6 linked regions of the Homo sapiens genome follow. The protein of the gene in region 4 purifies or fractionates together with the protein of the main gene of each other region. This does not show direct contact. Each region holds a gene or a part of one and is shown on either strand. Other genes may lie near its edges. The genes, in order: ABLIM1, POLD3, ARHGEF26, ZMYM1, RNF146 and RIC3.

Region 1 (5,242 bases), on a different chromosome or scaffold from region 4:
AAGTTTCAAAGAAAATGACTGAAATCATTCTGTGTCTCCTGGGTCATTCTTTTTTTCTTTTTCTTTCTTTCTTTTTTTTTTTTTTTTAGACGGAGTCAGGCTCTGTTGCCCAAGCTGGAGTACAGTGGTGTGATCTTGGCTCATTGCAACCTCCACCTCCTGGATTCAAGCGATTCTCCTGCCTCAGCCTCCCAAGTAGCTGGGACTACAGGCACCTGCCACCATGCCCCGTGAATTTTTGTATTTTTAGTAGAGACAGGGTTTCACCGTGTTGGCCAGGCTGGTCTTGAACTCCTGACCTCAAGTGATCTGCCTACCTCGGCCTCCTAAAGTGTTGGGATTATGGGCGTGAGCCACCATGCCCACCTCCTGGGTCATTCTTCTGGATATTACCAGGCATTTTTATGCTGATCTAAGTGAAAACCTGGATATTTTTTTTCTCCAAAGTTATTTCTTAGTTCTACCTATGACATGAGGGTGATCTTTATAATTTTTTTTTGTTTTCACTGAAGAAATAAAACATTGCTTAGGGGAGAGTTGGGGGAGTGCATAGGGATCTGCAGTTGGGACTGGATTTTTCGGTTTTGTTTTACCTCCAGCCTGGTTCTGTCCACCTCTCTGAGGATTTTGTTTCGCCCTCTGTTGGTCACCATGAGCATTTCATATGGAAATATCTGAGAAGAAAGAAAACACCTCTTCTAGAACACCACAGTCCATTTTATTAACAAGCAGAATCCACCTAAACGCTAGTACTCCCAAGATAGAGCTTCCAAGAGACTGTCATGACAGAATTCGAGTGATGGGTCTTCCTTCTGCAAGGCCAGTGGAAGCTCCAGTTTCCAGGGGACAGGGACAGAATCTTAGACATTCTCAACTTTCCACCAGTGTCTCAGGTAGCACTGAGCCTTAGGGGGGCTTTGTTGAGTGGCAGAACACTAACTTACTATGTATTGGGATGAAGGTAAACATTAGAAGATAATGGAAATTACAGGCACGTGTTTTTTGTTTTTGTTTTTCTTTTTTTGTTTGTAGACAGGGCTTGCTCTGTTGCCCAGGCTGGATGCAGTGGTGTGATCACAGCTCACTGTAGCCTCAACCTATCAGGCCCAGGTGACCCTCCTATCTTACCCTCCCGAGTAGCTGGGACTATAGGCACATGTCGTCATGCCAAGCAATTTTTTTTAAGTTTTAGTAGAGATGGGATTTTGCCATGTTGCTCAGGCTGGTCTTAAATTCCTGAACTCAAGCCATCTACCCGCCTTGGCCTTCCAAAGTGCTTGGATTACAGGCGTAAGCCACTGTGCCCAGCCAATGTGTTACCTTTTATAGGATGCTGTTATAGGGCAGGGTGCATTTGTGCTGGGGTTAACAATCTTGTCCCATGACTAGCTCATGAATCTATGGGGCCAGGCAGGCCCAGAAGCAGTGCTCTGGCAACTGCCATATTGAAATAAGCCCTGGTTATGGTCACCAGGGAGCATGAGCCCTTGGACAACTCTGAAGGTACAGGGTGCTCTGGAGCTAGGGTGGCCAGTCACCCCAGTGTACCCAGGACTGAGGTTCTTGAAATGCAGGGCTTTCAATGGTGAAACAGGGTTGCCTCACCTACATGGTGAGTCTGCAGCCACTCCACTCAGCACCGGATATGCTCTGTAATGCACATGGCAGAGGCCAAGGGAATACCTTGGTCATAGGCAGAGAGGGACTGGCACCTCACTGTAAACACACAGCATCATGCCCAGTAAGGGTTTAACCTGCTGACCTGATGTGGGCAAAACAGCAGAATGGCAAGGTGCATATTCATGACATGGCTCACCTGAACACACCAGCCTACAACACTTTGAGAATGATGAAAAGATAGAACATCAAATCTGTTTAGGGTTACGCCATTCCCATATGAGAGGAAAAAGAACAGCTGCACTTGCCTTTGGTTCCAACATGTTGGGCATAGACACTCCTCGGTCCATTCTCATTGCAGGCATGTGGCCATCTGGGAGTGTCTGCAACAGAAATGCCAGTTCCAGGTGAGGCATGAAATAGTCTAGGAAACTGAAGGGAGTACTCTTGGGCTCCCAATTCCCTGTTGGGTCTCCAATCCTAACCACTATTTTATTTGTGTCATCTAAATGACCATGTATTTTTCAAAATGAGATCCTTGCTGTATAGGAACAGGAATACAGCTCTTTTGCAATCAAGTTGGGGAGAGATCTTGGCTTGATGGTTATGGACAAATTCCTGAATTAGGCTCCATGAATGAAAGCATATAGTACATTTAAAAGATGCCCAAGTCTATTATTGTTAGTTTCTTATCTTTAATCATGATTTTCTATGCATTTTTCTTCTTTTCTTATTCTCCATCACATTTCTTTCTTTCTTTTTTTAACAAGATTGAGGTTCTAGTGAGAAAGGAATGTCATGAGGGCAAACTGCTCTCTCCTATTGGCTAAGACATCAGTGTCTTTTCATTTGAGAACGCGCAGGAAAAGGGTGGCCTAAAGTACTGAGAGATTATAATTAAAAGAAGAAAAACTGTATATGAGCAGACCCTTGATGCTGGTCCACTTCCACCCCAGAGAGGACTCTCCAAGGCCAAAGCAAGAGAGACCCCCTACACCTGGCCTGGTTCATGCAGTGTCCCCAAGGCCTGCAGGGACAGCTTGACCCAGGCACCAGGCATGTCTGCTCTTCACGGCTATAGAGTAATGACTAGAGAGATCAACCACAACAAGCATCTTCTCAACAGAAACTGTTGCCTTGGAGCCAGCAGTCTGGGTTGGAACATGGCTGTTCTATCGGTGTGGCCAATTCAAGAAAGACAAAGTGTTCCATACCTGGTAATCTGAAAAGGAAAGGAAAAGAAAATATCATAAGGGAAAGACCATGGAAAAGCAAGGAACCATTCACAGACTATATTATATTGAAATTCCCAACATATTCGCCCTATAAACCATGTTCTTTTTCTGCTCCCAGACTCTGCACATGTTATCCCATCAGCCTCCCTGAAGCCAAGAAATGCCTGGTCCAGTGTTAGTTAACAGTTAAAACATTTTCCCCTGGAAGCTTTCGCTGACAACCTAAAGGTACTTACTGCTTCCTTCTCTGCATCTCTGATCCCAATGTTCATCACACAGACCTTCTTTCTGCCATATGCATTTTGAGGGCAGGGGCCATGTCTCACTTATTGTTGTACCTCCAGTTACTTTTTTTTTTTTTAAGAGACAGTCTTGCTCCGTCACCCAGGCTGGAGTGCAGTGGCATGAACATAGCTCACTGCAGCCTTGAACTCCTGGGCTTAAGCAATTCTCCTGCCTCAGCCTCCCAAGTAGCTGGGACTACAGGCATGTGCCACCAGCTAATTATTATAATTTGTTGTTGTTGTTTTTGTTGTTGTTGGTAGAGACAGGCCCACTTTGTTGCCCAACCTAGTCTAGAACTCCTGGCTTCAAGTAATCCTTCCGCCTCAGCCTCCCAAAGTGTTGGGATTGCAGGCATGAGCCACCATGCCTGGCCTCTAGGTATCTGATAGAGTGCTCAGCACATAGTATGAGCAATGAATAAATTCTCACAAACTCACTTCTTACAGTTTGATTTCATTAGATATTCTTTGAAATTTTGTAAATAATTGCCCTATTAGCTCACAGAAGACAGATGTGATCCTACTCTAAGGATACAATACAGCATGAACACAGCCAGTATACTTGACTCTCATGAACCTCAGCCTCGAGGGAAGACGTGGCCATGCTCAGCCTGGCCATGGGAGCCTCACCTCGCACTCCCCCGCTGACATCCCCATAGCTGTTATACTGAGCGAAGTCGGTAGAAACAGGCTGAAATGAGGAAAAACAATTATTAGGAAATCTCCATAGTGATCGTTTTGGAGTCAGGTGAAAAGGAAGAAAGAGTTTACAAAATCCTAGGAATTCTTCCCAAGCTAAATGTCAGACCTTCATTTTTTTTTTCCCTATGATTCTTCTACTGCTATGCCATCTCTTTGTCTTTTTTAGTGTACTAATGCCACCACTCAGCAGGCTCTTGGTAAGCAGGGATCTCTTGCTGATAAATAAAAATGCATTGTCCTACATAGTTACATAATTGTATTTGTTCCATCTTTTGTGAGGAGGATGGTTATAACACACATTCTTATATCTTTTTACAGCAAAGATAATGGTTCAAGTAATTACTTTTTGTTTCATTGTAAAAAATATTTGCCATACAGTTTTGCAATTTAGTTTTCCCATAATCATACACAAGCCATTCTTTTATCTAAAGTTAATTTCTTCTTCTCTCAATAGAAACATTTTATTTTGCCTGTAACTCAAATTAATTTACTAGGCAACCAGGGAGGTTAAAATTTTCATTATGTTCCAACACTGAGATCAAGAGTCAGACGTATTCAGGCAATGTGTCAATACTTCAACCAGGGCCGAGGTGGGAGTAAAGGCAGAAACAATGAATCGGGGAGAAATCTTACCCGGTGAAGCCCATTTCTTCCATAGCCAGGGAGAGATGCAGTTTTAGATGATGGAATATGTGAAGCTGAGTAAGAAAAAAGTAAAAAACCAATTGTTAGGAAATCAGAAGGTCCAATCCTTTAATGAAATTGGCAGTATCTTCTACCTCACAGGATAGAAATACCAAAAAAATTCAAATCATATTGGGCTCAAATGTTCAAAAATATGCCATCATATTTGCAAGGAGTGGGTGGACAGTGATATGACTGAGGAGGGAAGGGAAAGTCAAGTCCACGCGGTTGAGTGGGGGCTGAAGCTGGCTGTGCTTCCTATAGCTCTGGCATGGAGCTAAGTGTTCAGCATGCTTTATTTCTTTGAATCTTCAATATAACCCTAATAACACTATGATTATTAGTTCCATATTACAGAAGGAGAAATAGGGGCTAAGAAAAATATCCTGCCAACAGTTACTAAGCTTCTAAACAGCTGAGCAAGGATGTAAATCAGGGATATCTGAATACATTAGCCCATGCCCCAGTTGATAAGGCAGCAGTAACTGAACTGGAAGCCAACCCTGTATGTTATCAAGATCTACCAGCCATCTACAGCTGGCCTCCTGGGAGGCCTGATACAGGGTATCTGTCAATGATATGGAAGCCTGATAAGCTGCTGGGCTTGAGAGGGAGCAGCCCTGGGCTTGAATTCTGGTTCTGCAACTTAATACCTCTGTATCTCCGGACATGGTGTTTAATCTTTCTGAAGTCCTCATTTCTTCATCTATGCAGGTACAA
Region 2 (5,242 bases), on a different chromosome or scaffold from region 4:
GAAATGCATTGTTAGGTGACTTCACTGTGTGAACATCACAGAGTATACTCACACAAACCTAGATGGTATAGTCTATGCTCCTAGGCTACAAACCTGTACATCATTGTTACTGTACTCAATACTGTAGGCAACTGTAACACAACGGTATTTGTGTATTTAAACATCTAAAAAGAGAAAAGATACAGTAAAAATACTGTATAAAAAAGATTAAAAATGGTACACATGTATAGGGCACTTACCACGAATGGGGCTTTCAGTACTGAAAGTTGCTCTGGCTGAGTCAGTGAGTGAGCGGTGAGTGAAATGTGAAGGCCCTAGGATGTTACTGTACACTACTGTAGACTTTATCAACACTGGATACTCAGGCAACACTAAATTTATTTTAAAATGTTTTTCTTTCTTCAATAATAAACAGCTTACTTTAACTGTATTTTCAATTTTATAACTTTTTGGCTCTTTTGTAATAACACAGCTTAAAACACAAAAAATTGTACAGCTGTACAAAAATATTTTCTTCTTTATATCCCTATTCTATAGGCCTTTTTCTATTTTAAAAATTTTTTATTTACTTTTTAAACTTTTTTTGTTGAAAGCTAAGACCCAAACACACATTAGCCTCGGCCTACACAGGGTCAGGATCATCAATGATCATTGTCTTCCACCTCCACATTTTGTCCCACTGGAAGGTCTTCTTCAGGGGCAGTAACACACATGAAGCTGTCATCTCTTATGATAACAATGCCTTCTTTTGAAATATCTCCTAAGGGCTGCCTGAGGCTATTTTACAGTCAACTTTTTTTATAAGTAGAAAGACTACCCTCTAAAATGATAAAAAGTATAGTGCAGTAATTATAGTAGCATAGTCATTTTTATTATCAAGTATTATGTATATATAACTATTAATATATATGATATACTTTCACATGACTGGCAGCACAGTAGGTATATTTATACCAGCATCATCACAAACACGTGAGGAATGTGTTGCGCTACCATGTCATGACAGCTATGATGTCACTAGGCAATGGGAATTTTTCAGCTCCATTATAATCTTACGAGACCACTGTCATATATGCAGCCCATTGTTGACCCAAACATCGTTATGCAGCGCATGAGTAATCTTATGAAGTTAGCACAATTTTGACACAGCAACTTGATAAAGACATTACCAGAAAAGAATGTAACTGACCTGTAGACCTCATAAACACAGGCAACAAATGCTTAGTGTAATATTAACAAATCTAATCCAGCAATATATAAAAAAGGATAATACATCATAACCAAGTGGAGTTTATCCCAAGAACACAAGGTTGGCCTAACATTTTAAAATCAGTGTAATTCACCACATTAATAAAAACACCATCTGAGCATCCAATCAATTCAAAAAAGCATCTGTCCAAAATCAATACCCACTCATGATAAAACCTCTTAGCAGACTTGGAACAAAAAACAACTTCCTCAATCTGGTTAACGGCATCTATTAAAAATCTACATTTATCATCACATTTAGTAGTGAAATACTGAATGCACTGCTGGCAATAAGTATCAACAGTGAGTGACGTACCCATGGTTGTGGACATTTTAATCCATACAAGTCATATGTTCCTAGGTGGTGAGGCCCACTGGACAGAGCTTTAACCCTCTAAAATTTCACCATTTTGTTGATGTTTTCAACGAGAGTAGTCCCAAACTTGCCACAAAAGTCGTCTTTCTAGGCCTATCAGTGTTGACAGTGTCCTTTAGAATTTCTTTCAGCAGACTAATTCTACCAACTATGAGGTAGTGTCTCCAATTCCTGGATCTAGTTTTAATAGCTTTATGTGCTTTTTATTTTCTTTTCTAATTACATTTTACCACTTGAAAAATAAACTCATTGATATAAAAAGAAAACAAAGAAGTTTTTCTCTTAAATTTGACTGGAAACAGTAACTGTTCATTTGGCAATTTGAAGTGAAACACACACACACACACACACACACACACACACACAACTAGGCACACTTATGCCATGTCCACAAATTTAAAACAAAAATCAACAATCAATTTAGATCAATACGGCCAAAAACACGACTTTGGTCCTTAAATCATCCAAACTGGCTGATCCTACGGTCCTACTCCACTAGATAAGCTACTGGGCTTCTCTTTCCATTTTGGTTGTATAGTTGTATCCCTTAGGCATTAAGTAGGATTTAGTACTTAACTGAAAACTGCCTGCTGTCAATAAGCCCAAAGAGACCTTCTCACCCCCAGTAAAGACTCTTCCCCAATAAGCAACAAAATTTTCCTACCTTTTTTTTTCCTTCTGCAGCACCTTAACAGGCTCTGCTTTTTTGCTGGATTTTTTCAGGCCTGCAGGAGTTGCCAGCTTTGGTTCCGTGACAGACACTGTAGGCTGCTCCACTATTTTTTCTTCTTTCACTGCTTGTTCTGAGTCCAAATTGACTTTAAATTTATCTATAAATAAAGTATAGCAGACGACATATGACCCCATCATGCAATATTAATACATCATTCTTTTGACAGTCTACCATGTGCCAGGTAATATGTTAGGAGCAGGGGCAAAAAGGAGCTCATGGACTATTCAGAAACATTCCTCCTTTCCAACTACCACTCTAACTGTAACTTTTCATTTCTGCCTCCTGCTAATCCCTCATTGTATCACAGCCCCCAGGCTAAATGATAGTAAAAGCAAGGCTTAGAAAAAACACATACAACTTTATGAGGCATCATCCTTCTCATTTTCAGATGAGGAAAATCAAGAATCAGAAGGATTACAAGATGTTTCCCAACAATACACAGTTTACAAATGGTGACAACGATTTGCAGCAAGACCTTTGCTTTCTATATATTCTATCTTTTAATGCCTGGATACCCTTAATATCTCACTACTACCTTAATGATAAAATTTAAAGACTATTTTGGAGTCAAAGAAGTTTGGTTCAAACCCCGCTTCACTCTGGGCAAGTTATTTTATCTAAGTCAGTCTTTTCTAAACCTGAGATAATATTTACAAGATTATCATAAGGATTAAAAGAGATCAGTATTGGTTAAATGATTTATCCAGGTAACACTGACAGAAAAGAGTAGGGATTTGAACCAAAGTCAGTTTAACTCCTCAAAGTCCTTAACCCTTTCCCTACACCAAGCTGAAGAATGACTACAGTGCAGCAGGGAGAACTAAGAAATGCAAACAGGCCTAGCCATCTGAGGAACTATAGAAGCATGTCATCTAGCCTTCACGCTGTACTTAGTGATAGCTTTTCACAAGTAAAGGCACAAAATACTATTAGAAAGCTGTCATTAGCTGGAGGTGCTTCAATAAGTAGTTTTGGTTATATGTTGTATAATAGCTTAAACCATCTACAGTGTAGAAAAAAATTGGTATCATAGTCTGGGCTATTATGCATAGCTTAGTACAATAATTTATAAATAATGTGTATTATTTGAAGGGTAGTTGATGGACCAAAGTGTAAAATGCAATCTATTTATACTTTTCTTTTTCCTGAAGACTTGAATGGAAAATGCGAATGGTGGAATCCACCTTCCCAACGATGGCATACTCTTGCATTTTCAACTGTTGTTCTCAAGTATCAGTGCCTCTCAAATATCCCAAATTGTATAGAAGAGTAAACATGCATCTCCAGGGGTCTAGGGGTCAACAGCCAATCCAAAAAATACAGTTCACTGGAGTCACATGTGTAGCTTTAAAATTTATGCAAATTTTGCAATCTATCACATAAATTATATTGTTTTAATAGCAATTGTTTTAAAAATTGCATCATTAGGAGAAAAAAACCTCCAAATACTTCCTACCTACCTATGGATTAAGGAAAGAGAGGCTATTGCATTGAGTTTACCAATTACAGAAAACTGATCTGAATTAAAATGCCACTGATCAAACATTAGATTCAGCATCCAGAGTTTCTTCTGTCTTGGTTTCACAGAATTTTGAGAACTCCAACTTAAACATATATGCAGCTACCAATAGCCAATTAACTGGTAAAGAGGTAGTTTAATGCAACATTGTAAGGCAATTATTAAGGAAAATTTAATGACTTTTTTTGTTACCTGAATGATCAAGTCACCTATCTTCTAGCTGATTAAAAGCATTTCCTTTTTATACTCAAGAAAACACGAAACCTTTTCAAGCAAATAAAGATAACCAATTATGACCTTTAAATTTTGTCATCAATGCTGAATTTTATTACATATAAAGCGTTACTTTTAAAAATTGAGATATAATTCACATACAATAAAATTCATCACTTTACATTCAGCGTTTTAGTTGTATATCCACCATCACTGTCCAATTTTAGAGCATTTTCATCACCCCAGAAAGAAACCCTGAACCCATTAGCATTCCTCCTCAACCCCAGTCCAGCCCCTGACAACCTTTATTTACTTATTTATTTATTTATATATTTTTTGAGACAGAGTCTTTCTCTGTCGCCCAGGCTGGAGCGCGGTGGCGTGATCTCGGCTCACTGCAAGCTCCGCCTCCTGGGTTCACGCCATTCTCCTGCCTCAGCCTCCTGAGTAGCTGGGACTACAGGCGCCCACCAACAGGCCCAGCTAATTTTTTGTATTTTTTTAGGAGAGATGGGGTTTCACCGTGTTAGCCAGGATGGTCTCGATCTCCTGACCTCGTGATCCGCCCGCCTCGGCCTCCCAAAGTGCTGGGATTACAGGCGTGAACCACCACACCCGGCCCCTACTTTCTGTCTCTATAGACCTGCCTATTCTGGACGTTTCATATAAATGAAATAATATATGATCTTTTCTATCTGGCTTCTTTCACTTAATATTTCAAGGTTCATCCATGTCATATCACATATCCATCTGTACTTCATTACTTTTTATAGCTGAATAACATTTCATTGTCTGGATATACCACCTTTGTTTATCCATTCATCAGATGACAGACTTTTGGATTGTTTCAATTTTTGGCTATTATGAAGAATGCTGCTATGAACATCTTGTACAAGTTTTTGTGTGGACATACAGTTTTAATTCCCTTGTGTAGATATCTAGGAGAGGAACTGCTGGGTAAACTCTATGTTTAACTTTTAGAAGTACTGCCACATCATTTTCCAAAGTGAGTACACATCATTTTACATTCCCTACAGCAGAGCACAAGGGTTCAATTTCTCCACATCCTTGCCAACACTTGTTACTGTCCAGTATTAAGTTTTAAATGGTTCAAGTCCCCACAGTGAACTCTCTTCATCCAATTCTCAAGCTT
Region 3 (3,500 bases), on a different chromosome or scaffold from region 4:
CGGGAACTTTCAAACCAGTCATTTTGGCTTTTAATCTAAGCTTAAAGCTATAATTTTTGAGTGTTCCAGGATAACAATGTTTTGTTCTAATTCTTTGGATTTGACCTTGCAACTGTAATAATCTAAGAAACCACAGCATCAAAGTTAGGAAGCTAATAGGCATACAACACCCCCCTTCACTGCGCCAGTTTCTAATTCTCTAGAATAGTGAAACACACTTTCTTAGAAGGTCAAAAAGAATTCTTAGGTAATTTTCTTTTAGATTAAAAATACTTTTCAGCTTAAATCCAGACTGTCAGTATGTAGAAGGTTTAAACATGATCAACTGTTGCCCACTGATAATAGCTAAAAATTTAAGGGCTTTACAGTTCAAGTAGGGCTTTTAACATAGATTATTTAACTTAATCTTCACAATAACCCCATGTTGTATATAATGGTGTAACTGACTTGCAGATGGTTAAATAGGCTCTGCAATGCTAAGCAATGATTTGACACGTTTACACAACAAAGAAATGCACCTTGGATTTGAATTCAGACCCCCTGACTTCCAAAGCAAGGATCATACATTTTTGGTGTAAAGCAGAAGGAAGCCCTGGAGGAAACTTAGGCAAGTATTGTGGCAATATAACTCGTTAGTAACCCGGCGTCCAGCAGGGGGCAGAGCCCATCCATGTTCCCAAGTGGGCTTCCCCTTGAGAGAACTTACAGGTTCGGTCTGCAGGCGGCTTCCCGCTGCTGTGTCCCAGGGCAGTTATCCAGCGGGCTCGCTCGCTCCTAAAACAGAGGGCAGATCCAACTGAGAGACTCAAGGTGTAAAAACACAGAATGGAGTGTTTTCTAGGCAGCCAATGCAAAGGCACTCCCAGAAAACAAGAGATTCTCTAGAGAGGTATGGTAAAACAGGGTGAGAGTAGTTTAAAAGTGATAAGCTGGAAAGTCTAAAATAAGCAGGAGACTAGTCATCATTGTCAAAAGAGTCTGAATGAACTTGGCTCATTATTGATTAAAAGGAACTTCCCATATGACAGTTTAAAAGTTAATAAGGAGCTGATTACACGAACACATTATAACTCCAAAAGGTATTTAGCATACCCATAATTTGATGTTTAACATTTCAAAAGCAGTTAAGTTTCATTTTTTAAAAATCCTACTAATTTCTCTGCTTCCTCCCCACTTCCCTTCCCACACACTCAAACCTTTCCGTAAACTTGAGAAACTTGACATATTTAGTTGTCTCATCCCTCATACAACTAATTTTGCCAAATATGAGTCTTACTGAAATAGAAATTCTTTGGCCACTTTTACACTGTTCCCAAATGCTTAAAATGGTTTAATGAGCACAGGAAAAATGACCAATACTTTTAATATAATATTAAGCTATAATTACATAAAAATAATTATTCAACTAAAGGATCAAAAGTTTCAGATAAGCAAGCACTTCTCTACATAATGCAGTCACCCTGGTTTTTTATTTTGAGCACCAAGTATTAAAATTACAATTAATTAAATACTGCCCCGCCACACACATACTTTTAACTCTCTTATGTATTTATTAAACACATGCTACATGTCAGACACTGCACTCAACATCCACTATTCCATGTAATCCTCTCAAAAGCCCATCTGAAGGATGCTAAGATCAGACAGAAGTTCAGAGGCAAGCAATTCAAACCAAAGTCAGTTTCTACTGTGCCACTCTACATTCTTAAGAAAAAATGCCTTCATGACCAACACCTGGGGAAAAAAACTCTTCTCTCATAGCAGCCTGAATCTACAGATGCTTGTCGCTGTCACCCCACCTTCATCCCCATATGCATCCTTCCAACCCAGGCAGAGAGGATGACTTACCGCATTGGAACATAGCACCCTTGCCCCAGCCTTTCCTATTCCTTCCCTGTTTTTGCGTAGATAAGCCCACTCATTATTGCCATTAAAATTTCTTAACATACATAACATAAACTGAGTTAATCATAAGCGTGTACAGCTCTGTGTTTACTTACCAAGACACAGATGCGCCAGGCATTTCCATTCTGACCCTTTCCAATCAATAACCTCTGTCCAAAGGTGACTGCTCTTGTTTTCCATTACCATGGAATTTCTATTACCATGCTTCTTTTGTACTTTTTGCAAATGAAATCCTTTAGTATGTATGCTTTTGTATTTGGCTTCTTTTGCTCAACATATATCCACTCAATGCTGAAAACACAAGGCTCACTTCCTCCAGTGGGGGCTCCTCTGATACATAAACCAATCCTTCCATCTCCATCCCAGTCTGATAATCCTGTTTCTAGGGCACCCCTCTGCACAATTCTATTATATTGCTGGTCAACAGTAAGCCTCATAAAAGCAGGCAGCTTATCCATTTGGTTCACTGCATTATCTCTACAACATTGCCCAACACGTAACAGGGGCTCAGTATATGTCTGCTAATGAATGAATTATATAACTCATCACATATTGAGCCCAATCATTTACTGACTCATCTGCTTCTCTTACCAGGCTATAAACTCCAGAATGGCAGGAATTGGGCCTTGTTCTAAATAATATTCTGAAGCACCTATGTGTCAGGTATGGTACTAAACAATTGCAAGTATCATCTAATCTAATTTTTACAACAATCTTGAAAAGAAAATATTACCAAAATTATTTCTATTTTTTTCAGAGGACAAAGCAAGTCTGGTATGTTAAGCACCTAACCCAGGCAGTCTGAAATCAAAGAGGTGGTGTTACGCAGCAGGTGTTTACAAAATAATGATGGAAGGCAGGAAGGGTGGAAACTGTGGTATCTTGAAAGACAGGCATTTTCAAAGATTAAGATGAGGCTGGGCCTTGATCAAGATGGTGTGTCAAGTAGTAATATGCACAATTTATATAGAAGCCAAGGCTCCTGTCTTGCTTTTAAAACCTCTCTCTCTCTCTCTCTCTCTAATACAGGACAAAGGGCTTTACAATAGTTCTGTAAGAAATAAGCAAAGCACAACTTCATGTAAAATAATTCCCAGGCAAACACTTGTATCTTTGCTATGATGTCTTTATTGGGAATAAGATCTATTTTTTACACAGGCTCAAGTGGAATTTGCAAAGTACAAAGCCAATCGAAAACAAAATACCTCATGAATAGAAGTGTTGCTCACCAAGAGAAATCTAAAATGATCCATTTGTGTCTCTCTATGCCATACTGAAACAAATTATACATAGCCTATACTGCTGTCTTCTGGAGCAATTTAGAGCAACTTGGAGCCAGTGAGGCAGATCTTCCTGTACACAGACACCGTCTCTGGCACTGAGTGGCCAGTATCAGCAGTGGCTTTGCCCTACAGCCAGTTTCCAGAAGTCCAGATGAAATCTTTCACTTCTGTGGCATGCTGCCTGGATGCTAATAGCATCTCTTAGACATGGCCACCCCTCACAGGGACTCCAGAGGATAGAACAAGACACTCCTTGTTGCTATCACTAAAAGGAGCAGCTTTTTGAGACTTTCAATTGAGTGAGTCCCACCC
Region 4 (6,005 bases):
TGGAGACAGAGTTTTACTCTTGCTGCCCAGGCTGGAGTGCAATGGCACAATCTCAGGTCACTGCAACCTCCACCTCCCGGGTTCAAGTGATTCTCCTGCCTCAGCCTCCTGAGTAGCTAGGATTACAGGCATGCACTACCACTCCTGGCTAATTTTTTGTATTATTAGTAGAGACGGGGTTTCACCATGTTGGCCAGGCTGGTCTGGAACTCCTGACCCCAGGTGATCCACCCGCCTCAGCCTTCCAAAGTGCTGGGATTACAGGGGTGAGCCACCACGCCCGGCCACTAAAGGAAATTCTTTAAGCTAAAGTAAAATAGTAGATGGGAATTTAGCATAAAAGTTGGAAAGCAGGCCAGGCGTGGTGGCTCACGCCTGTAATCCCAACACTTTAGGAGGCTGAGGCAGGCGGATCACTTGAGGTCAGGAGTTCGTGACCAGCCTGGCCAACATGGTGAAACCCCATCTCTACCAAAAATACAAAAATTAGCTGGGTATGGTGGTGCACGCCTGTAATCCCAGCTACTCGGGAAGCTGAGGCAGGAGAACTGCATGAACCCAGGAGGTGGAGGTTGCAGTGAGCCCAGATCATGCCACTGCACTCCAGCCTGGGTGACAGCGCATGACTCCATTTAAAAAAAAAAAAAAGTTGGAAAGGAAGAAAACTTTTTATTTGTAGACATGACTGCATATAGAAAACTCTAAGGAACCTCCCCCAACTCACCCCCCGCAAAAGAAACTATTAGAATAAGTGAATTCAGCAGAATTATAGGATAATACAAGATCCGCATTTTAGAATTTTTCTTATCACTTATCTTCAACATTGTAGTAGAAGTTCTAGTTAGATCAATAAAGCAAGAAAAAATAAAAGACAAACTTTGAAAAGGCAGTTAAAATTGTTATTATTCATGGATGACATGATTCTATACAAAGAAAATTCAAAAGAATCTCCAAGTTATTAAGCTTAGCAAGACATTCGAAAATAAATTTTGGCCAGGTGCAGTGGCTCACGCCTGTCATCCTAGCAATTTGGGAGGCAGAGATGGGTGAATTACCTGAGGTCAGGAGTTCAAGACCAGCCTAACATGGTGAAACCCGTATCTACTAAAAATACAAAAGAATTAGCTGGGCATGGTGGTGGGCACCTGTAATCCCAGCTACTCAGGAGGCTGAAACAGGAGAATCACTTGAACCTGGGTGTCAGAGGCTACAGTGAGCCGAGATTGTGCCACTGCATTCCAGCCTGGGTGACACAGTGCGACTCCGTCTCAAACAAACAAACAAAAAATCAATTTTATTTCTTTATACTAGAACAGAAAAATATAAAAATAACCATTTTCTGCAGCATCATAAATATCAAATATAGGAATAAATCTAATGAAAGCTATTAAAGAACTCTACAGTGAAAACAAAACATTGCTGAGAGAAATTAAGGAAGATCTAAATAAATGCTCATTGATGGAAAGAGTCAATATTAATTTTTCTCCTAATTAAGCTGTAGATGAAAATCCCAGCAGGGGTTTTTGTGGAATTTGTAAGGTAATTCTAATGTATATACAATGTGCATACAGAGCCTAGCATAACCAAGACAATATCAAAAAAAAAAAATGTTGGAAGGGCTTATAAAGCTACAGTAAATTAAGATAGTGTGGTATGGACACAAGCAAAAACAAAACAGAGTCTGGAAGCAGATATACTCCTATCCCTTATTTCTTCGCATTATACCACTTCTTTATACATTACACTTTGCTAAGATTTATTTTATTCGGCCGGGCACGGTGGCTCCTGTCTGCAATCCCAGCACTTTGAGAGGGTGGATCAGCTGAGGTCGGAGTTCTAGACCAGCCTGGCCAACATGGTGAAACCCTGTCTCTACTAAACAAAAATTAGCCAGGTGTGGTGTAATCCCAGCTACTTGGGAGGCTGAGGCAGGAGAATCACTTGAACTGGAGGTGGAGGTTGCAGTGAGCTGAGATCGCGCTACTGCACTCCAGTCTGGGAGACAAGAGTGAAATGCTGTCTCAAAAAAAAAAAATTATTTTATTCAACTGAGTTCTGCAAGGTCTTTTACTAGCCTGATGGGAAGGCTGGAGGCAGAAGGCTATATGTTTTTCAAACCAAACTAAAATGTCCATGGTTAATTCTGCAGGCAATGAAGAGCCATCATTTCCGAAGTGCCTTGGTACCGGGTTACACTGATGAGTAGGATGTCCCAACCAGTAAGTATATACAAGGTACTGAGAAGAAATGAAAAAAGAAGACGGTCAGTCTTCTGGGAGGTGAAATTTGAGCTGGGTTTTAAAGTGTCTACCAACCAATGATGGCGGATATTCCTGGTATAGAGACAGCATGTACAAAACCACAAATAGCCGGGCACAGTGGCTCAAGCCTGTAATCCCAGCACTTTGAGAGGCCCAAGCAGGTGGATTGCTTCGATTCAGGAGTTCGAGACCAGCCTAGGCAACATGAAGATAACCTGTCTCTACAAAAAATACAAAAATTAGCTGGGCGTAGTGGGGAGCACCTGTTGTTCCAGCTACTCTGGAACCTGAGGTGGGAGGATCGCTTAAGCTCGGAAGGCTGAGGCTGCTTGTGAGCCGTGATCGTGTCACTGCACTCAGCCTGGGCCAAAGAGCGAGACCCAGTCTCCAAAAAAAAAAAAAAAAAAAGAAGCACAAATATATGGGAACTAGAAGGAGTGGGACTGTTGTTGCAGATAAAGTACAAGTGCAAGAGTGCTAGTAGAAGGAACTGGAAAGTTTGAAAAGTAGACATGGGTCATGTCAGGAAGGTCCCTGATACCAAATACCTTAAAATTAATCTTGTAAATCAGCAGCGTTCAAACTGTGCTTTTGGGGTTCAGCAAACATTTCATTTTTTTTTTTGAGACGGGGTCTCGCTCTGGAGTGCAGTGGCACGATCTCGACTAAATGCAACCTCTGCCTCCCGGTTCAAGCGATTCTCCTGCCTCAGCCTCCTGAGTAGCTGAGATTACAGGCGCCTGCCACCAAGCCCAGCTAATTTTTGTACTTTTAGTAGAGACGGGGTTTTGCCATGTTGGCCAGGCTGGTCTCGAACTTCTGACCTCAAGAGATCCGCCCGCCTGGGCCTCCCAAAGTGTCGGGATTACAGGCTTGAGGCACCACGCCCGGCCAGGAGTCAAACTTTTGAAAAATCACTGCTCAATGAAGGAGAGATACAGGTGTGATGGGGCTTCTGAAACGGAGGCTGCGGAGCGAGACTAAAGTCTGAAGGCCCAGTTACTACACAGGAGCAGGAGGCGGCGAGAATCGCTGGAAGCGGGGAGCACTAACCCCCCCAGTCTATGAGGGCAAGGTTAAAGGAGGCGGCAAACACAATCCACGTCAGGGCCTGGCCCGGAGTTCCCGACCCCCATCTGGCGGAATCCGCACTCAAAGCTCCGTCTCTAAAACCCCGACCCGGCGCGTCATCCTCCCTCCGACCGACAGCAGAAACCCTGCCCCTTTCGAGTAAGGCGCAGGAGTAAAGACCGAAACCAGAGCCGCATGAGGAGGCTTACTAATTTCTCTCAGGGACGCCCCGCCCAACGCTTCTGAAACAATCTTCGAAGCGAAACGGCCCCGCCGACCCCGCCCCTCTCCCGTCGTGCTCTGCGGTTGAGCATGCGCAGGGCCGCTGGCTCAGGGTGGTCCCAGCTCCCTGAATTGGGAAGAGCGACTTTGGGATAGAAGAAGTGGGAGAGGGGGAGGGGAAGAGTCCTTACGGCCCGCATAGGATCTTACCCTTGAAGTCGTCGCTGGCTGGCAGCCAAAGTAGGACCCTTGACTCAGAGCTCAGGCAGGGCAGTTAGATTTCCTGGATTTGAGAGATGGCTTTACTACTTATTAGCTGTGTGCTAGTAAGCGATTTGACAACTTCTATAAATCTCCATTTCTTCGACCTTGAAATGGGGATAATTGTAGTGGCTGCATCGTAGGTTTGTAAACATTAGGCAGGCTTCTGCAGAAGCTGGACTCAAAAAAAAAAAATATGACAGGCAATGTTAGCAAAGTGCCAGTTGCAGAGTAAATTCCTAGTAAAAGGAAATTATCCTCAGAGGTAGGGAGGGAGTTCAGACTTCTTTCATTAGTACGTTAAAATTAAAATGACCCCAGGCTGGGTGTGGTGGGTCACACCTATAATTCCAGCACTTTGGGAGGCCGAGGCGGGTGGACTGCTTGAGTTCAGGAATTCAAGACCATCCTGACCAACATGGTGAAACCCCGTCTCTATTAAAAATACAGAAATTAGCCGGGCATGGAGGCGGGCGCCTGTAATCCCAGCTACTTGGGAGTCTGAGGCAGGAGAATCGCTTGAAGCCAGGAGGCAGAGGTTGCAGTGAGCTGAGATTGTACCACTGCACTTCAGCCTGAGCGACAGAGAGAGACTGCGTCTCAAAAAAAAAAAAAAAAAAAAAAAAAAAAATTAAAATAACCCCAAACTGCATGTCAAAAATAATGGCATATTTTAAATGTTTTTTGACAATACTTTCAACACCTAAAAAAGTATAGGACGAACTAACTGTGCTATTCCTAAAGGCATAAGAGGATTCTAAAATATATATATAAGGTTGAATGATGAACTTATTATAATCATATTTGACAATTACTTTTAAAGGAGATATTCTCAAAAATCTAAATTTGAGGCCCTTGTGAAGGTGAGGTCCAGACCAAAAGGGCCTCCTAATCCTTGCTGCTATGGTCCTTAAATATCCTTTGGAATTAGCCTCAAATCTAATATAAACCCTTTGGTAATTTGAAATATTATACGAGTAACTGAAGTTAATTTCTCCAACATTTATTATTACCTTCTAATATTCATAATAATCTGTTTAGACTGTTAGGATTAGAAAGGACCTTACTGAAATGATCTCTCCTCTAATGCTCCCTTCCTACCAAAGGAAAAGCTGAAGGCAAGAGGATAAAGGTAATTTGCCCCAAGTTACACAGCAACTCAGTGACTGGGATTAGATTGGAACCCAGAAATGAGTCCTGGTTCAGTGGGCATCCAAAGGCAAGTGATGTCATTGTAAATGCCCCGTGGGTTCACCTTGCCCGCTACCTAAACACAGTCCATTTATCAAGACGGGGAATTGCAATAGAGAAAGAGTAATTCACGCAGAGCCAGCTGTGCGGGAGACTGAAATTTTATTATTATTTAAATCAGTCTCCTCGAGCATTTGGGAATCAGAGTTTTTAAGGACAACTGGTGGGTGGGGGGAAGCCAGTGAGCCAGAAGCGCTGATTGGTTAGGTAGGAGATGAAATAATGGGAAGTTGAAGCTGTCTGTCCTCATGCGCTGAGTTAGTTCCCTGGTGGGGGCCACAAGATCAGATGAGCCTGTTTATCTATCTGGGTGGTACCAGCTGATCCATCAAGTGCAGGGTCTGCAAAATATCTCAAGCACTGGTCTCAGGAGCAGTTTAGGGAGGGTCAGAATCTTGGCCTCCAGCTGCATGACTCCTAAACCATAATTTCTAATCTTGTGGCTAATTTGTTAATCTTATAAAGGCAGTCTAGTCCCCAGGCAAGGAGGAGGTTTGTTTTGGGAAAGGGCTGTTATTGTCTTTGTTTTAAACTATAAACTAAATTCCTCCCAAAGTTAGTTTAGCCTATGCCCAGGAAGGAACAAGGACAGTTTAAAGTTAGAACCAAGATGGAGTCCATTAGGTTAGATCTCCTTCATGGTCTCAGTCATAATCTTGCAATGGTGGTTTCATCGTCATTACTAACTTCCTTGGGAGTTGAGTTGAAAAAATGGTAGGATTCATGATATCATAAAAAATTGTAAGGATGTGTGATAATTTTGAGATGTGATATTCCAACCACCCCCAGTGATAGATCTGAAAATTTGGCCCAATATTTCAAGCAGTAGATGTAGGTCACAAGTTTCATGCGTCTTTCTTGCCCTGAAGTCTCAATAGTTTATACTGGCTGAAAGATTAAGTCCTAAGGAATAGGAGGAGAGCTCTGGGAGATAGGAAG
Region 5 (5,242 bases), on a different chromosome or scaffold from region 4:
ATGTCTCATTTACTGGATCACAGTAAGTTCCTTGATGACCAGCACCTAGACTATCTGACCTATTAAGATTTTAAAAAATGTATACAGATAGATAAATGGACAGGATTAAATAAAATATATATTTTTAAAGACAAATGCTTATTAGTATCATTTTTCAATTATCAAATTTTCAATACTGAATAAAAATAATATGGTCATACTTTTAATAATAAATTAATTATTGTTAATACATATCATTACATGTAACCAGTATCATACTGGAAGAGTAGAAAGCAAGAGTTTTATGTCAAACTGGGAAAATGTGAAATAGCATCTACCAAGGTCACTCTTGCTCTAATAAGAAAAACACTGTAATTAAAAGTCAATAAAATATTCACTACATTTTTCATGAATGACATCAAGTTGCATAGGGCTTATATGAATTTAGAAAACAGAAATATATTCATAGTGAAAAATGTTTCATCAATACGGTGAAGTTAAATATGGACAAATCCAAGGTAGTGTGTAACACTTTAAAGCATATCATGCAAAGATAAATGATGAAAGCACAACTAGTAAAACTGGGGATCAGAGTGAAGTGATATGAATAAAATGCAGTGATGTATTATTACATTAAAAAAATCAATTATGTAGAAATTCCTTTAATTTAGTGAAACAAGTTTTTAGTAACTAGAGTTTTTATAACCTAGTAGTCTGTCTTATTTACAAAAGCTAGTACTACTTGCCTAGCTTAGTTATTTAAGAAAATTATTATGTAAAAAGAAGGTAGAACCCAGAGGACCTGGAGATCTATTTCAGCATTCTTTGAGCAAACTCCTGTGTCTTCAGTTTTTCTTATAGAGACTTTTCCTTTTGAGGAGACTTGGAAATCTACATTAACGATAACTTAATGTAAATAAATTGTTAATAAAGCACCTATAAGTCAAAAGAAAATGCTCATTTAATATAATTAAAACTACATATGACAGATACTCAATTTACCACACGTTAAACCAATCCATTTAATTTACTGCAGCACTGAAAAAAACCATGATGCTACACTTACATTTCTATTACAGATCCCACAGATGCCTGCCACAAAAATAAAGCATTTTCTTCACCAGCAGTCAGCCAGCTTACAGTATTTTCTCTTCCACTGCTGGTTCATTCTTTGTGCTGCAAAAGAAAAAAAGAGTAATTAAGATCAAGAGAATCAGTTAATTATGTATAATCCTTTCAAAAAATTCAGTGGAAAACTTTATCTTAAAAGTGGGAAAAATTAAAGACAAGATGCATGCTTTTACCACTGCTATTCAACATGACTGTAAGTTCTAGCAGAGCAAATTAGGGAAAAGAGATAAAGGCATACAGACGGGTAAGGAGGAAGTAAAACTATGTCTATTCTCTCTAGATAGAAGATCTCATAGAATCCCCAAGAAAGCTAATAAACAAATTCAGCAAAGTTGCAGGTTACAAGTTTGACACACAAAAAAATCAGTTGTGTTCTGATACACCAGGAGACAACAATCCAAAAAAGAAATCAAGAAAACAGTTCATTCATAAAGTAACTAAGGGAATAAAATAGCCAGGAATCAACTTAACCCAGGAGGTGAAGGACTTGTACACAGAAAACTATAAAGCATTACTGAAAGAAATTAAAGAAGAGCTAAGTAAATAGACAAGTGATGTATGGATTGGAAGACTTAACATATTAAAATGACAATACTACCCAAAGTGATCTACAGATTCAACATAATTCCTATCACAATTCCAACAACCTTTTTTGCAGAAATGGAAAAGCAATCCTCAAATTCATATGGAATTGCAAAGGACCCTAAGTAACCCAAACAATCTTGAAAAATCCAATGTCAAAACTTACTACAAAGCTAAGGTAACAAGACAGTTTGGTGCTGGCATAGGACAGATAAATACACCAATGATATAGAATTGAGAGTCCAGAAATAAACTCATACATCAATAGCCAACTGATTTTCCAAAAGGGTGTCAAGTCTACTCAATGGGGGAAAACAGGCACCTCTAACTAATGTTGTTGGGACAACTGGATTTCCACATGCAAAATAATTAAGCTGGACCTCTACCGTATACTATATATAAAAGTTAACTCAGAATGAATCAATAACCTAAATATAAGAAATAAAACCATAAAACTCTTAATAGAAAACACAGGAGCAAATCTTCATGGCCTTAGATTTGCAATGGATTCCTAGATATGACATCAAAAGCATGAGAAACATAGGAAATAAATTGGGCTTTATATAAGTTTAAAATTTTTGTGCATCAAAAGACACTGTTAAGAAAATAAAAAGACAAACTGCAGAATGGGAGAGTATCTTGGCAAATCATGTATCTGATAAAGGTTTAATATCCAGAATATGTAAAGAACTGCAGCTCAACAACAAAGACAAACCAATTAAAAAGTGAGCAAAAAATGAGTAAAGAACTTAAAGAAGATACACAAATGGCCAATAAACACACAAAAAGATCCTTAACATTATTAGTAATTAGGGAAATGTAAATCAAAATCACAATGATACATCTATAAGGAGGCTACAACTTTTTTAAAGGGAAAAATAATAAGTGTTGGTGAGGATGTAGAAAAATAGGACCTTTGAAAACTGCTGGTAGGAAGGTAAAAGGGTGTAGCTGCTGTGAATAATAATTTGTTGCTTCCTCAAAAAGCTAACACAGCAATGCCACTCCCAGGGATATAGCAATAGAATTGAAGAGGTTCTCAGACACTTGTATGCCAATATTCACTGCGGAAATATTAGGCAAAAGGTGGACACAATTCAAGTATCTACCAACAGATGAATGGATAAACAAAATGTGGTCTATAAATACAACAGTACATTATTCAGTAATAAAAAGAAATATGTGCTACAATATAGATGAACCTTGAAAACATACTAATAAGCCACATACAGAAAAGTATGATTCCACTTACATGAAATATCAAGAATAGGCAAATTCATAGAAGCAGAAGGTATCAGAAGTTACCAGAGAGTGAAGGAAGGAAAGTGGAGAGTTATTGCCTAATGGGTACAGAGTTTCTGTTTGTAATGCTAAAAAAAAGTTGTGGAAAATCTATAATGGTGATAGTTGCATAACATTGTAAATGAAATTAACTACATGGAATTGTACTCTTAAAAACCTGTACCATCTCAGTCATTAATCTTCTTTCTTCTCATTTAGTATTTCCATCTCCACCTCACCATGTCCACTACAGGACGCACATCATATTACACAGAATAATCAAGAACACATGATAACTAAAGAAATGATAGATCTCACAGTAAACACAAGATAGAGGAGACTTCAATCTTCTTTTATTTCCATGTGGCTCTCATACTATGGGCATCTATCTCCCTACGGTATCTTAAGATTCTAGTGTTTAAAGAAACATATTCTTAATGCCATTATGTGGCCCCTAAATACAAGCTGACTTATCCTACCAAATGTTTAACAGAACAAACAATTTGTTTTAAAATCAGAGAACTTTCAAAAGTAACTGACTGTGATGGTTAATACCGAGTGTCAACTTGATTGGAGTGAAGGATACAAAGTATTGATCCTGGGTGTGTCTGTGAGGGTGTTGCCAAGAGATTAACATTTGAGTCAGTGGGCTGGGCAAGGCAGACTCACCCTTAATCTGGTGGGCACAATCTAATCAGCTGCCAGTGAATATAAAGCGGGCAGAAAAATGTGAAAAAGAAAGATGGGCCTAGCCTCCCAGCCTACATCTTTCTCCTGTACTGGATGCTTCCTGCCCTCGAACATCAGACTCCAAGTTCTTCAGTTTTGGGACTCGGACTAGCTCTCCTTGCTCCTTGCAGACAGCCTGTTGTGGGACTTTGTGATCGTGTAAGCTAATACTTAATAAACTCATATATATATTCTATTAGTTCTGTCCCCCTAGAGAACACTGCCTAATATACTGACTAAACAAGGTTTCTAAGTAACCTTTTTGTTTTACTCTGACTTTAGATGAAATGGACTCCACTATTTTGACTTTCCTCTCAACCCTTTCACCAACTTCAAGGAGCCTACAACTTCAATGGCATCAAAGAAGGCTATGTTCATTTCCTTGCTGCAGCCTACGCCAAACAGAAAACTGCACATTTTCATACACTCCCTATATATAGGACAGGAGGAGACAATTTACTGCTCCAACATCATTACTTTTTCTTTCAAGTCTCTATCACACTGACTTTAACATACCCCATAATCCCCTAAAACTGCTCTCTCACCACCTGTAAGGGATTAATGTCATCTTTTCACTACTGATCATCCTCTTCATCCTAACTCCTGACATGACTATCAGCCTATTTAAATAGCCTTGAAAATGAACCATCCAACACCTATTGCACAGGTTCTTAAACTTGTCCCAACTTCTATTCATCAGAATCACTGAAATTGCTTGTTAGAAATACATATTCTCAGCCCCTTTCCTTAGAAATTCTAGGCCAGTAGACATAGGTTTAAACCTAGGAATCTCACCCCAGGTGGTACTCATGCTTTAGTCCTTCAAATACAATCTGAGAAACACCATCCTCAATTTTCAGTTCCTTAAATCCTAAATTTGAAGAAATTAATCTACTCTCCAGCAACCAAATATTATAATCACATTTAAAGCTAGTTGTCACCTAAACTGCTGCCTCTCTGAAATCTTAATCCGACTCTCAGATCACAAGCTCTGGTTCTTCCAGCCTACTCATTCCCACACCTGCTCTTCAATTTCATGGGGACCTACCATCTCTTGACCATCTCCTTTCCTTTATCCAGTTCCTGATCTCATTTCCTTTCCTGCCCATTCTGGAACCCAATCTTTTTTACTTCTTAACAGAACCCTTGGCCCCCTCATATCTTTATCTCATATACACACATTTTACAAACCCCCATTTCTGCATAATTCTTACAATATGACATCTCAGGTTTCATGTCTTAACTACTTTGTGTTCATGGAGAAAAAGAGAAAGTCCTTTCTCTCACCACACAGCCCCCTGCTCCCCCACCCCAACCAACCACACCATAAATTCTGTCAACTTTTATTCCTAATCCCTTTGGAATCTATCCTGTACTCTCTACCCATTGCTAGTGCCCTAGTTTAAACCTACATAACTCTCACCTGGACTATTGTTCAGCCTGATTATCTTGTGTCAGTATCACCCTCATTTATTAAGCCTTTGAGTGAGATTCTCTCTCTCTCACTCTCTCACACACACACACATACACTCACTCTACA
Region 6 (5,242 bases), on a different chromosome or scaffold from region 4:
TCTCTTGCTCTAATATCCATATTTTCCTTTGGGAACTCCTCTCAACTCCAGAGTGGATTCATCAGTATATTCTTTCTACCCACAGCACCACAAGTTAACTTAATTCAAGCCATTAACGTGAACGGATATGTTTGCTGGAACTTCTGGGAAAGAATCTTGGGAGTGAGGCTGGAAGGTGAGAGTGATGGAGGACTTAAAAGAAAAGAGGCCTGGAGCTGTGCCCAGCAAAGTGCTGTAATCCCAGCACGTTAGGAGGCTGAGGTGGGACAATGACTTGAGGCCAGGAGTTCCAGGCCAGCTCTACACACACACGTATATAAATGAGACACTCCCACTTTCTCCGGGCAATGGAATGTGAGGAGGTAATGTCCGAAACTGTTGCTATAAATGAGACACTCACTTTCTCCGGGCAATGGAATGTGAGGAGGTAATGTCCGAAACTGTTGCTATAAATGAGACACTCACTTTCTCCGGGCAATGGAATGTGAGGAGGTAATGTCCGAAACTGTTGCTATAAATGAGACACTCACTTTCTCCGGGCAATGGAATGTGAGGAGGTAATGTCCGAAACTGTTGCAACCATTGCTACCACCCTGAGAGGGCAGCCAGAGCACAGAACCAACTTGAGAACGAACCCAGAGTGAAAAGGACACAGAAAATAAGAGCTAGAGCCCCAGTGTGACAACTGTGAGTCTCTGGTTCAAACCATACTGCAAGACATTTCTAACACAGGGTCTTTTCATTTACACAAGTCAATAAATTCCCTGTCTTAGTCAAGCTGACTTTTCTGTCACTTGTCACAAGCACCCTAACTGGTGAACCCAATGACAATGACTTGGTGATGCTCATGATGTCTCAACTGGATGACTACAACAATCTTCTCCCTGAAGAAATCCTCACAACGCAGTGTCTACACTGCTGCCAGGGTGTCCTTTCTAAAACCAGGTTAAATGTTTCTCTTCTCCTTACACACTCAATGATGCCTCATCTGCCTTTAGAATAAAACCCAATCTCCTTAAGAATGACAGAAAAAAACCTTCACAATTTGGCCCGTGCCAACTTCTCTGGTGTCTTCTCTCACAACTCTGAGGATACTTCAAGGCTCCATGCTTCTTCTTTTTTTTTTTTTTTTTTTTTTTTTTCTTTTTTTGAGACAGAGTCTCACTCTGTCGCCCAGGCTGGAATGCAGTGGTGGGATCTCAGCTCACTGCAACCTCCAACTCCCAGGTTCAAGCAATTCTCCTGCTTCAGCCTCCCAAGTAGCTGGAATTACAGGCGTGCACCATCAGACTGGGCTAATTTTTATATTTTTAGTAGAGACGGGGTTTCTCCGTGTTGGCCAGGCTGGTCTCGAACTCCTGGCCTCAAGCAATCTGCCTGCCTTGGGCTCCCCAAGTGCTGGGATTATAGACATGAGCCACCGTGCCTGGCCCTAAGCCTCTGTGTTTCTTTGCTCAGTATTTCTTCTACCTAGAATGCCCTTCTTTTTCATCTGGATTATTTAAACACACACACACACACACACACACACACACACATACACACACACACACACCCCCCAAAACACTTTAAGAACTGCCTCCTCAATTTAGCCAAGGAAGGTAAAGCTGGGTTAACATCTAAATTTCAATTAATGTAATATGCCACATCAGTAAAGGACAAAACTCACATAATCATCTCATAATCATCTCAACAGACATAGAAAAAAAGTATTTGATAAAATTCAATACCCCTTCATAATGAAAAACACTCAGCAAACTAAGAATACAAGGGAACTTCCTCAACCTGAAAACAGGCATCTACGAAATGCCCCCAGATAACATTACATATGCTAGTAAAGCATACTTCTTAAGATCAAGGACAAGAAAGGATGTTTGTTCTTACCACTTCTATTCAACATTGCACTAAAGGTTCCAGCTAGGGCAGTTAGGCCAAAAAAAGTAAAAATAAAAATAAAAGGCATTCAGATTAAAAAAAAAAGTAAAACTATCTCTATATGCAGACAAGTTCAGCGAGGTGACAAGATACAGTATCAATATACAAAAACTAATTGTCTATACACTAAGGAACAATCTGAAAACAAAATTTATAACAACATCAAAAAGAATAAAATACTTATGAATATATTTAACAAAATAAGACTTTCACACTAAAAACTACAATCTCCTTTAAAATAAATTAAAGACCTAGATAAATAAAAAAGAAATCCTCTGTTCATAGATTGAAAGATTTAATATTGGTAAGATGGCAGTACTCTCCAAATTGCTTCAGTTCACTCTATCAAAATCCCAACTGGCATTTTTTTTTTTTTTTTTGGCAGAAACCAAAGTGATGATCCAAAATTCCTATGGAAATGCTAGGTCACAGGACCCAAAATAGCAAAACAATCTTGAAAAAGAAGAACAAAGTTTGAGGACACATTTCACGATTTCATAACTTAGAAAACTACAATAATTAAGACAGCATGGTACTGGCTAAGGATAAGTATACAGATTAATGTAATATAATTGAGAGTCCAGAAACAAACTCTTACATTTAGAGTCAACTGATTTGACATGGGTGCCAGAACAATTTAATGAGAAAAGAAGAGTCTTTTCAACAAATGGTGCTGGGGCAACTATATATCCACATGAAGTTGGACTCCTACCTTACCCATATACACAAATTAATTCAAAGGGATCAAAGACTTAACTGCAGGAGCAAAAACTATAAAACTTGAAAACATAGGCATAAATCTTCATGACCTTGGATTTGGCAATTTGTCTCAGATATGACACCAAAAGCAGGAGAAACAAAAGAAAAAAGTAGATAAATTGGACTTTGTCAGAGAAAATGTAAAACTTTTCTTATTCAAAGGGCACCATCAAGAACGTGAAGGCAACCACTGAATGGAAGAAAATATTTGCAAATCATATATCTGATAATAGATTTGTACCTAGAATATACAAAGAACTCTTACAACTCAACAATAAAGACAAGACGCCAAGTGTGGTGGCTTACACCTGTAATACCAGTGCTTCAGGAGGCCAAGGTGGGAGGATCACTTGAGGCCAGAAGTTCAAGACCAGCCTGGGAAATATAGTGAGAGCCTCATTTCTGCCAAAAAATTTAAAAATTAGCCAGCTATGGTGGCACACACCTGTAGTCCTAGTTACCTGGGAGGGTAAGGTGGGAGAATCACTTGAGCCCAGGAGTTTGGGGCTACAGTGAGCAATGATGGCACCACTGTATTCCAGCCTGTGCACCAGAGTGAGACCCTGTCTCTCTCAAAAAAAAAAAAAAAAAAAAAAAAAAGACAAGTAATCTGACTTTTAAAGAGGGTTAAAAGGACCTGAATAGACATTTCTCCAAAACAAGATATACAAATAGACAAAGAGTGAATAAACACACAAAAAATGCTCAATGTCATTAGTCATCAGGGAAATGCAAATAAAATCACAATGAGATACCATTTCATTCCTACTAGGATGGCTATCATCAAGAAGACAGATAACAAACAAGTATTGACAAGAAACCAGAAGCCCTCTTACACTGCTGGTGGTCATGTAAAATGGTACAGCTGCTTTGGAAAATGGTCTGGCAGTTCCTCAAAAGGTTAAACATGTAATAACCATACAACCTAGAAATTCCACGCTTAGTTCCAGCCACACTGGAATGCTCACATTTTCCAAATGTATACACTCAAGAGAAATGAAAACATTAAGTCTACACAAAAATTTGTACACAGATATCAGTAGCAACATTATTCATAATAGCTAAAAGGCAAAAATTCAATGTCCATCAATTGATTAATGAATAAATGAAATGTGGTATATCCACACAATGAAATATTATTCAGCCATAAAAAAAGTACTGCTACATGCTACAACATGGATGAACCTTGAAAACATTATGCTAGTTAAAAGACGTCAGTCACAAAAGATCAGATATTATATGATTTCATTTATACCAAATGTCCAGAACAGGCAAATCTATAGAGACATAAAGTAGATGAGTGGTTGCCTAGGGCTGGAGGTGGGCTGGGGGATTTGTGGAGTAATAGCTAAAAAGTACAGGGTTTCTTTGGGGGCTGAAGAAATATTCTAAAATTGGTTGTAGTGATGGTTGTACAACTCTGAATATGCTGAAACCCAATAAATTGTACACTTTAAGTGGGTGAATTGTATGATATATAAATTAGATCTCAAGAAAGCTGTTATCAAAAAAAAAAAAGACTTCCCTCCTCTATGTTCTATGAAACCTGTTTTTTGGGGTTTTTTTTTTGTTTTGTTTTGTTTTTTTTTTTGGCAGAGTCTCACTGTGTTGCCCAGGCTGCAGTGCAGTTACACAATCACACCTCACTGTAGCCTTGACCTCCAAACTTCAAACGATCCTCCCACCTCAGCCTACAGAGTAGCTGGGGCTACAGGTGCACACCACCATGCCCAGCTAATTGAAAAAAAACAAACTTATTTTGTAGAGATGGGGGTCTTGTTATGTGGCCCAAGCTGGTCTCGAACTCCCAGGCTCAAGCAATCCTTCCACCACAGCCTTTCAAAATGCTGGGATTACAGGCATGAGCTGTCACACCTGGTTTATGAAACCCTTCTTAAGTCCCAATAACACTGACCATTGCATACATGTCTCCATTGTTCCCTGCGCAGACTTGAGTAACTGTGACTGACACTCTTGCATTTATCTGCTAACATGTCTGTTTTGCATTTATCTGTTGACATGTCTACTTTCCTTTACTAAACTGTGGCCGCCTCAAAGCATGGAGTTCGCTCATTTTTTCTTGGAATACATAGTGTCTATACACTATGTGCACAGTATGTGATATGGTACATCATAAATATTTGTTAAAAGACTATCTTAAAGGCTTTCATGTGGAAAGGGAACTGTGCTTGTTTCATGCACATCAATGGGCAAAAATGGAAGACATAACAACATGTATTTTTAAGAATTTTCAAATACTCAGGGTTATTCCTTTCTTCAAAGCAGGGATTTCTGGGTTCTGAGAATTCTCTGAATTGATACTGAAATTCTGAGTACAATAAGAGTATGTACCTTTTTCTAGAGAGAACATACAGTTTTAGGCTGAGTGCAGTTGCTCAAGCCTGTAATCCCAGCACTTTGGAAGGCTGAGGCAGAAGGATCACTTGAACCCACGAGTTCGACACCAGCCTGGACAATACAATGAGACCCCCATCTCAACCAAAAACAAAAAAAATTTTTTTTAATTAGCCAGGCATGGTGGCATGTG

What was found.
Region 1: the proteins of ZMYM1 (region 4) and ABLIM1 purify together in Homo sapiens (co-immunoprecipitation; one large-scale study listed by IntAct). This does not show direct contact.
Region 2: the proteins of ZMYM1 (region 4) and POLD3 purify together in Homo sapiens (tandem affinity purification; one large-scale study listed by IntAct). This does not show direct contact.
Region 3: the proteins of ZMYM1 (region 4) and ARHGEF26 purify together in Homo sapiens (co-immunoprecipitation; one large-scale study listed by IntAct). This does not show direct contact.
Region 5: the proteins of ZMYM1 (region 4) and RNF146 purify together in Homo sapiens (co-immunoprecipitation; one large-scale study listed by IntAct). This does not show direct contact.
Region 6: the proteins of ZMYM1 (region 4) and RIC3 purify together in Homo sapiens (co-immunoprecipitation; one large-scale study listed by IntAct). This does not show direct contact.

The regions. Positions count from the first base shown.
Region 1 is NC_000010.11:114,437,251-114,442,492, forward strand, and holds part of ABLIM1 (actin-binding LIM protein 1), read right to left. Parts: intron 4,537-5,242; coding exon 4,472-4,536; intron 3,828-4,471; coding exon 3,767-3,827; intron 2,840-3,766; coding exon 2,832-2,839; intron 2,001-2,831; coding exon 1,926-2,000; intron 675-1,925; coding exon 594-674; intron 1-593. UniProt on the Homo sapiens protein: May act as scaffold protein. May play a role in the development of the retina. Has been suggested to play a role in axon guidance.
Region 2 is NC_000011.10:74,622,620-74,627,861, reverse strand, and holds part of POLD3 (DNA polymerase delta subunit 3), read right to left. Parts: intron 2,455-5,242; coding exon 2,289-2,454; intron 1-2,288. UniProt on the Homo sapiens protein: Accessory component of both the DNA polymerase delta complex and the DNA polymerase zeta complex.
Region 3 is NC_000003.12:154,250,390-154,253,889, reverse strand, and holds part of ARHGEF26 (rho guanine nucleotide exchange factor 26), read right to left. Parts: exon of another isoform or gene 2,663-3,500; intron 2,569-2,662; exon of another isoform or gene 775-2,568; coding exon 707-774; exon of another isoform or gene 1-706. UniProt on the Homo sapiens protein: Activates RhoG GTPase by promoting the exchange of GDP by GTP. Required for the formation of membrane ruffles during macropinocytosis. Required for the formation of cup-like structures during trans-endothelial migration of leukocytes.
Region 4 is NC_000001.11:35,076,979-35,082,983, reverse strand, and holds the start of ZMYM1 (zinc finger MYM-type protein 1), read right to left. Parts: upstream 3,600-6,005; 5' UTR 3,542-3,599; intron 1-3,541.
Region 5 is NC_000006.12:127,276,144-127,281,385, reverse strand, and holds part of RNF146 (E3 ubiquitin-protein ligase RNF146), read right to left. Parts: intron 1,156-5,242; 5' UTR 1,048-1,155; coding exon 1,046-1,047; intron 871-1,045; exon of another isoform or gene 1-870. UniProt on the Homo sapiens protein: E3 ubiquitin-protein ligase that specifically binds poly-ADP-ribosylated (PARsylated) proteins and mediates their ubiquitination and subsequent degradation. May regulate many important biological processes, such as cell survival and DNA damage response.
Region 6 is NC_000011.10:8,161,514-8,166,755, forward strand, and holds part of RIC3 (protein RIC-3 isoform a precursor), read right to left. Parts: intron 1-5,242. UniProt on the Homo sapiens protein: Molecular chaperone which facilitates proper subunit assembly and surface trafficking of alpha-7 (CHRNA7) and alpha-8 (CHRNA8) nicotinic acetylcholine receptors.